Regions from separate parts of the Homo sapiens genome. Here region 2 is linked to region 1. Evidence: fine-mapped expression QTL. A gene starts in region 1. The other region holds a variant in brackets. All regions are shown on one strand. Distances are between the middles of the regions.

The links. PIP is the estimated chance that this variant, and not a neighbour inherited with it, causes the effect. A credible set is the group of variants that fine-mapping cannot tell apart.
Region 2: its variant is the best candidate, but not a certain one, in a credible set for the expression of EHBP1L1 in whole blood (INTERVAL, PIP 0.79).

Annotation. Positions count from the first base shown.
Region 1 is chr11:65,573,323-65,577,702 of GRCh38, forward strand. EHBP1L1 (EH domain binding protein 1 like 1) reads left to right here and starts at 2,731. Exons shown (of 19, transcript NM_001099409.3): 1 at 2,731-3,084. The coding sequence starts at 2,981. It overlaps FAM89B (family with sequence similarity 89 member B), which reads left to right. Exons shown (of 2, transcript NM_001098785.2): 2 at 41-868. The coding sequence ends at 319. RefSeq lists silencers at 816-1,335, 2,356-2,775, 2,786-2,845, 2,906-3,005, 4,056-4,350 and an enhancer at 1,706-1,845.
Region 2 is chr11:65,455,510-65,459,889 of GRCh38, forward strand. It overlaps the pseudogene FAUP4. Among named protein-coding and RNA genes, the nearest start is that of MIR612, 13 kb to the left of the region's middle. RefSeq lists an enhancer at 3,789-4,380 and a silencer at 4,288-4,347. The variant C/CA (reference allele first, on the strand shown) is at 2,446.

The sequences.
Region 1 (4,380 bases):
GCCTGGACCCCAACTCCAGCCCACCCTCAGTTGTCTGCAGGTGGGGCTGCGGCAGTTGGACATGTCCTTGTTGTGCCAGCTGTGGGGCCTGTACGAGTCAATCCAGGACTACAAACACCTGTGCCAAGACCTGAGCTTCTGCCAGGACCTGTCATCCTCCCTCCATTCGGACAGCTCCTACCCACCGGATGCGGGCCTGTCTGACGACGAGGAGCCTCCCGATGCCAGCCTGCCTCCTGACCCGCCACCCCTTACTGTGCCCCAGACGCACAATGCCCGTGACCAGTGGCTGCAGGATGCCTTCCACATCAGCCTCTGAAGGGCTGGGGGGCAGGGGGCATGCACCCATGCAAAAGGCTCAGAAACTCCCCCTCCGGCAAGCCCTCAGACTTCGGAGCCTGCGCCTTCCCCCCTACCGCCTCACCTCACAGGAGGGCCAGGCATGTATTCCTCAGAGGCGAAACTGCCAAACTCTTTCTCCTGTCTTGGGTTGGCTGGCACTGGGGCGGGCATCTAGGGTACAGCCTCTGCTCATGGCACTGGGCCTCCAGTTCTTCCACATGTGTGCACCCCCAGCTTGGCCAACCCTCAGCCTTGCGGTGGGGCCCGAAGCATCTTCCCTTCCGCTTGGCGTCTCTGGGATTGGGATGAGTGCCTGGCTCCCATCTCCTCCTCACCTTTTGTTGCTATCGGCAGCTGCTGGCTCAGGGGCATCCCACCTCCGGGCTCTGGGTTCCTCTGCCCTGGAAGGGCTCCAGGACCCGTCCCAATAACCACCCACGGCCAGGAGGGCCAAGGCCCCGTGCTGGATATTTAAATTTAGGGGCCGGTCTCCAGGGCGCGTAGATAAATAAATACACTCAGCGTCGTTGTGCTCTGCCTGGCTGGCTCTGGGGCGGGAAGACCGCGGTGTTTGTGGCAGGTGCGGCCCCGCGCTCTGCCAGCAGGTGGCGCCCGAGACCCCCTCCCCCCCCGCCCCGCGCCGAGTGAAGGCCCTGCCGTCCCGCCGGGGCGGGGCTGGGGGCGCTGCCTGCTGGCCGAGCCTGGCTCAGCCGCCGGGTGACTGCGGTCGAGTCACTTCCCCTCTCTCGCCCGCGACCTCCGAGTCCCCCGCTCCCTCCTCCCAGTTCGCTTCGGGCTTTCCCTGCCTGCCGGGAAGGAAGGAGAAGGAGCCGCCCACCTTGAGGAGGGAAACTTTCCACCCCGCGCGGGGCGGGGTTGAGGCGGCGCAGGAAATGGGTGGCCGGAGTCGCCGGAGCAAGGGGCCCCGGCGGGGGCGGGGGAGGCGCCTCCGGGAACGGCCTGGGACCTCACGCCCCGCGGGTGGGAGGGAGGGGTGGCAGAGGCCGAGGGGAGTGAAGTCGCGGCACCTCGGGCCTTCCCGGAGGCCAAGCATGAGACTCCGCGGCGGTGAAGTTTGATTGGGGTTCCAGGGACCCGTATTCCCCGCTCAGTCTGTGAAGACCGCCGGCTCTCCCCACAGCACTAGCGGTCTTTACAGTTATCTGTGGAAGGTTTCTTAGGAAACCGGGGACCCACACCGCTGGGACTGAGAACCAAACCCAGTTGTCAAGCCCACCGGAAGAAGCCAGCACGTTCGGAGACAGTGGGTACTCAGCCCCCTACACGCGCACACGACACCTCACAACCTCCTGAAAAGAGGTGAAGCCGCACACCGAGGTGTGCGGACGAACAGCACATCCCCGCGCCCTGCTGCAGCCATTTGCCTCCTGGAGATGCAGCCCAGATGGCAGTCCTGGCACTCAGACATCCCGTTAAACCAAGTAGCAGTCACGCACCGGGCTCCTGTCCATTTACACACCTTGCAGAGCAGCGGGAAGGAACAAACTGACCTATTGCCCCAGGGCAGCTGACACCTGCAGAGGCTCATTACCATGCAGGGCGGGTGGGTAGGCGATAAGGGCTCTAATCTAGGGGTTCACAGCTGCTAACGCTCCAGGCAGGCTTTCCTGGGGAGGGAGAGTAAACATACACAAAAATGACACGTTTTCCCCATCCATTATAGCGCATCCCATTTAATAAGGAGGCATGGCAAAATCAGCCAGGCTTTCTGCTAAATGCCTTCTGAGGTTCATCCTCTCAGGGATTCCCTAAAAGGCGGAACTACAATTATCCCCATTTAATAGACGTTGAAACTGAGGCTCAGAGTGTTAGCGCTTTGCCCAAAGTCACACTTGGTTGGAGGTCAGTTATGATTCTCCAGCTACTTGTCGGGGTTTGGGATTATCTTCCCCCTTGACAGCAGAGTCAGGTTCTGAGGTTGGGCCACCGAGGTTACTGACGCCTTCCTGCTCTGGTTAAGACGTGGGTGGCTGCACCTTGGAGTTGAGAGCTGGTCCTCGTCCACATTCACAGTATGACTCTGAGCAAGTCCCTTCCCCTTTCTGGGTCTCAGTTTTCCCAGCCGTTGAAAGGGGGCCAGTAGTACGTACCTCCCAGGGCTGCGGGCAGGAAGGAAGGCGGCCCGGGCAGCGCTCTCTAGGGTGGCACCAAGTTGCTGGTTGCCCTCTCTCCACGCAGCCTCTGCGCGCACCGAGCGGGCACTGCGGTCGGGCGACACCCCTTCCACGCCCCCCTCCCCCGCCCCCGCTCCCGCTCCCGGGTCGCGGCGCGAGGCCCCGGAAGCCGGGTCGCCCCGCCCCCGCGCTCCTGCCCCGGCCCCCGCCCCGCGCCGGAGCCCCGCCCGCCTTCCGACGGGGGTGCGGCTCCAGGAAACGGCGCGCTCCCAGCTCCGCGCTCGCCACCCGACGCGCCCCAGGCGACCCCGCAGACTCAGCCAGACCACCCTGCGGGCCCCAGCGGCGGCAGCGGAGAGCGCGGTCCCGGGTCGGAGCCTGGGACACCTCCGCACGGACGGGGCGGGCGGCGCGGACAGGCCATGGGGACCCGGGCCGGGCCAGCGGTGGCGGGCCAGCGGGAGCCCCGGGCCTGAGAAGTGGGCGGCGGGGTGGCGGGGGCCATGACCTCGGTGTGGAAGCGCCTGCAGCGCGTGGGCAAGCGGGCGGCCAAGTTCCAGTTCGTGGCCTGTTACCACGAGCTAGTGTTGGAGTGCACCAAGAAATGGTGAGTGGGAGGGAGGCGGGGGGGCTCCCCCGAACTTGCTGGGACCTCATCCGGCCCTTTGAGCCTGAGAGGACTCTGCCCCCCCAGCCCAATGACCAAATGGGCCCCCACCCCAGCTTGGGCCCTGGTTCCGTTCCCAGGCTCGGAGATTCAGAAGTGCCCTTGCAATTTGTGGGACCCCTGGAGTTGGGGGCGTGGGCAGCCTTCCCTGCGCGGGGGTCAGGACTTTCAGGCCTGAGGTTCTGCCTGTGTCCACTCCTTCCTCAGCTGCGGTCAGGGCTGGGGGAGGGAGGCCGCATGTCTTGTGCCAGAAAGGTGGTTCAGGGTGGCATTGGAAAAGGGATCAAGTTTTGAGGTCTGCAGGTGGCTAGGGCTGGGGCAGGAGCCTCCCTGACCTTACTTAGTCCAGCTAAGAACAGAGATGTTGCCCCCTCCTCCCCTGCCATCTTGTTGAGCCAGAAGAACCCCTCCAACTCCCGCCTCTTCAGCCAGAGTGCTGGGAGGCTGGAAACATCTCCACAATGTCCTTAAAAGGGGAAACTGAGTGCTGGGAGGATTGAGGAGGGAGGCGGGGAGCAGCTTAAAGGGGCCTGAGGACCTAGGAGGTTGTGGGTCCGGGAGGAGAGGGTTGCGGAGGGCAAGGTGGCAGGGTGAGGGGTGATTCACCAGAGGGTGCAGGCCCCAGCCTGGACTACCAACAGGTTCAGGGGCATCTCGTTCACATGCCGCCACCCATAGCTGCCCAGGCCCCTGCGTCACACCCTAAATATACGTGCTTGCTGGTGTCAGCTTCCCTTGGCTGGATTAGGGCACAGCTGTGGGGGCCTCACCCGCCAGGCGGGGCTAAATTTAGGCTCCCCAGGGGAAGGGCTGGGGCAGGAAGGGACCATGGGGTCCAGGGGGAGGGGAGTAAGCAGGAGGCTGGGGTCCCTTGGGCAGCTGCCATATCCTTGGCCTTGCCCACACTGGGCCTGCTAGAGGGCCATTCACATCTTTCAGCAGAGCCTGGGAGAGCTTGGGGGCTGGCACTTGAACTCTGGCCTCTGGCTCCTGCTCCAGCATCCTGCGGGAGGCCAGGGAAACACTGGGCACAGCAGGCTGAGGGTGCCGGCAGTGTCAACGCAGCTGAGTCACAGGCGGCTGTGGGTAGGGCCTCCTGGGCTGCTTAGCCTGGAGCCCAGGCCGGGAAGCTGCCCCTGCCCAGGTTGCAGCTTCCCAGGAGGGCGTGCCCAGCCTGAGTCAGGCTGCCCAGCCAAGCCCTGCCCTCCCTAGGCACCCCCTGTCCGCTTCCCCTTT
Region 2 (4,380 bases), 120 kb before region 1:
ATGAAGCCACCCTGGGTCAGTGTGGGGTGGAAGCCCTGACAACCCTGGAAGTGGTTGGCCGCAGGCTAGGAGGTGAGTGGGGCTACAGGGGCCCCAAACTGGTGTCCAGGGGCAATTCACGACACTTAGACTTACTTGGTTTGCCCTGCACGGTGTGTTACTTTTTTTTTTCTTTTTTCTTTAGTTCACAATGTCTAAAAGTCAGCTGATTTTGTGTTAAAATTCAGTGTCTGGCTTTGCTTCAAAAATTGGGAAGATCGGCCGGACGCGGTGGCTCACGCCTGTAATCTCAGCACTTTGGGAGGCCGAGGTGGGTGGATCACGAGGTCAGGAGATCGAGACCATCCTGGCTAACATGGTGAAACCCTGTCTCTACTAAAAATACAAAAAAAAAAAAAAAAAAAAAAAAATTAGCCGGGCGTGGTGGCGGGCGCCTATAGTCCCAGCTACTCCGGAGGCTGAGGCAGGAGAATGGCGTGAACCCAGGAGGCAGAGCTTGCAATGAGCCGAGATCGCACCACTGAACTGCAGCCTGGGCAACAGAGAGAGACTCCGTCTCAAAAAAAAAAAAAAAAAAATGGGGGAGATCAGGTGACATTGGGCCTGTGTTCCCACATACCAGCAATCTGCCCTAGCTGAGTGGTGGCTGTCCCTTTGGAAGGCTCTACAGTTTGCCACCATCTCCACACCTCCCTCTTCCAGGGCCAGCCACCATTTATCATCAGGCTTGCGCTGTTGTTTCTCTTAAAGAAAAGTGAATTCTCTTTTTGTTCCTATGTCTCTATCAAAAGTGGGAAAATGAAAGATGGATTGATAGCGCCGCGTGTTTCAAGAGAAGTGGGAGCAAGCATATTTCTTTGTGGAAGTATAGTCCTATGTGTTTAATATGTAACCAAACTTTGTCTGTGTCAAAAGAATACAACTGAAGATGTCATTATGAAACAAACCATGGTGAGAATTTTGACTAGTTTACAGAAAAGATGCATGATGAAAAACTCAATGAACTTAGAAAAGGACTAAACTTTCTACAGCATTAATCATCGAATACAAATAAAATAAGTGATGCTGCTGTGAAATGCAGTTACATAATAAGTGAAAAAATTGTCCGTGCTTCAAAATCTTTTACAGATGGTGAGTTTATAAAAGACTGTCTATTGAGTGCAGCGGAAATCATGTGTCCTGAACAGAAAGAAGCATTTGCAGACATAAGCCTAACCAGAAAAACTGTTGCTCAGAGAGTAAAAGATATGGCTGAGAATTTACAGGATAAGTTGTGAGAAAAAGTGAGATCATTTGTGACATTTTCTATTGCAGTTGATGAGTGCACATATGTAAATAATACAAGTCAGTTAATTATGTTTATCCATGGTGTTGCTGAGAATTTTGATATCATTGAAGAACTTTTAGACATGGTACCTATGGCAGATCCAACCACTGAAAGTGACTTATTTTTGTATGTTGAAAAAAGTCGGCTGGGCACAGTGGCTCATGCCGGTAATCCCAGCATTTTGGGAGGCCGAGGCAGGCGGATCTCAAGGTCAGGAGATCAAGACCATCCTGGCTAACACGGTGAAACCCCATCTCTACTAAAAAAAAATACAAAAAAATTAGCCAGGCGTGGTGGCGGGCGCCTATAGTCTCAGCTACTCAGGAGGCTGAGGCAGGAGAATGGCATGAACCCAGGAGGCGGAGCTTGCAGTGAGCCGAGATCACGCCACTGCACTGGGTGACAGAGCAAGACTCTGTCTTGAAAAAAGAAAAAGAAAAAAAAGTTTCAAAAAGTTTAATGTTGACTGGTCAAAATTAGTAAGTGTGACCACAGATGGTGCCCCTGCAATGGTCTGTGATAACACTGGACTTGTTGCAAAACTTAAATCCAAGTTCAAAATGTTTCAAAAAGATACAGAACTGAAATCCATTCACTGCATTAGTCATCAGAAATTGTTTTGTACTAAAAAGTTAAAACTAGCTGGGTGTGGTGGCTCACGCCTGTAATCCCACCACTTTGGGAGGCCGAAGCGGGCAGATCACCTGAGGTCAGGAGTTTAAGACCAGCCTGTACAACATGGCGAAACCCCATCTCTACTAAAAAATACAAAAATTAGCCAGGCGTTGTGGCGGGCGCCTGTAATCCCAGCTACTCGGGAGGCTGAGGCAGGGAGAATTGCTTGAACCTGGGAGGAGGAGGTTGCAATGAGCCGATATCACGCCACTGCACTCCAGCCTGGTCGAAAGAGCGAGACTCCCTCTCAAAAAAGAAAGAAAGAAAGAAACCCCGTGTCTATTAAAAATACAAAAATTAGCCAGGCGTGGTGGCATGCATCTGTAGTCCCAGCTACTCAAGAGGTTGAGGCAGGAGAATCACTTGAACCCAGGAGGCAGAGGTTGCAATGAGCCAAGATAGCGCCACTGCACTCCAGCCTGGGTGAAAGAGCGAGACTGTCT[C/CA]AAAAAAAAAAAAAAAAAAAAAAATTCCTCCCTATTCAAATTATTGTGTGTTTTTTTTTCTTTGCTGATTGGACCCAGACTGATAATGGTCCTGTTTCTTATCTGTCCTGGGATTCCCCTGAAAGAAGATTTGGATTTGGGGCAACAAAGAGGACAGATGTTCACATACACAGGACTTTGCCTTTCCCTGGGTCAGCAAGGCACCTAATGGAGAACAAGTGTCCCTGGCCCAATAACAGGCATACAGGCTGTTACCATGTTAATTCACATTGGTTTTTTTGGGGGGGGGGGGTTTTTGTTTTTTTTTTTTTGAGACAGTCTTGCTCTGTCTCCAGGCTGGAATACAGTGGCGTGATCTCGACTTACTGCAACCTCCGACTCCCTGGTTCAAGCGATTCTCCTGCCTCAGCCTCCTGAGTAGCTGGGACTAGAGGCACGCACCACCATGCCCAGCTAATTTTTGTATTTTTAGTAGAGATGGGGTTCCACCATGCTGGCCAGGATGGTCTCGATCTCCTGACCTTGTGACCCGCCCACCTTGGGCTCCCAAAGTGCTTGGAATTACAGGCGTGAGCCACTGCGCCCGGCTATGTTGATCTTAACTAATCACCATTGTGCCTCAATTTTTAGTTAATGATAGCAGAAAAAAGATGGGCCAATTCAACAAATATTTGTGGAGAATGTACCATGGGCAAGGCTCCTCTCTGAGGGCAAGTCATTTCTGTCACTTGTTTATTCCGTGACCTTGACCTGGTCATCTTACCCTCTGAGTTTTGCCTTCATCCATAAAATGAGGCTAGTATCACATGTATTATCTATTGCTGCATAAAAGTTACCTCAAAGTGTAGTAGCTTAAACCAACAAATATTTATTATATCTCTGGTTTCTGTAAGTCAAGAACCTGGGAGTAGTTTAGCTGGGAGGTTTCAGCTCAGGGTCTTATTTTTGTTTTGTTTTGCTTTCTTTGAGACGGAGTCTCGCTCTTGTTTCTCAGGCTGGAGTGCAATGGTGCAAACTTGGCTCACTGCAACCTCTGCCTCCCAGGTTCAAGTGGTTCTCCCGCCTCAGCCTCCCGAGTAGCTGGGATTACAGGCGTGTGCCACCATGCCAGCTAATTTTTTGTATTTTTAGTAGAGACAGGGTTTCACAATATTGGCCAGGCTGGTCTCGAACTCCTGACCTCAGGTGATCCACCTGCCTCGGCCTCCCAAAGTGCTGGGATTACAGGCATGAGCCACCGTGTCTGGCCCAGGGTCTCTTAAGAGATTGCAATCATTTGAAAACTTTGAGTTAACTTGTACGCAGCAATAGATAACTTACACATGTGGTCGTAGCCTCATCACTGGGGTTAGAGGATCCACATGAGAAAGAGCTCATTCACACAGCTGTTGGCAAAAGGCCTCAGCTCCTGGCAACATGGAAGCTGCCTTTCCCTGGAACAAGTGATCAGAGAAAGAGAGAGAGCACACTGATCGGCACTGTATCTATATAACCTAGTCTTGGAAGCGATACATCAACACTTCTCTCATATTCTATTGGCCACTGTATTAGCCATGTCTTTGATTTTCTTTATTCTGATGCTTTGACATCTGGAGCCTTGCTGACCCCACTGGAGGGACCACCTCTTCCAAGAGTTCTTAGGGATAGAGAACAACTCACCTGAGAGTGTGCTTTTCAAATGCAAACCAACCAGTCCAGAGCGCGCACCCCCCCACCATCTCCTTTATCATGCTTTCCCACTTCAGGCTGCCGGTCACTACCCTAATCACCCCAGGGCGCGGTACCAGACTAAAGGGACAGCCCCTATGCCCCAGAGCCTGAAATTGACCAATCCTGAAACTAGCAGTCCTAAAACTGTTATCCTGTCCTGCCCACCCCTTCCCTCAGAAACCACAAGAAAGGCTCTTGCAGGTCAAAGCGCAGTAGCTCATGCCT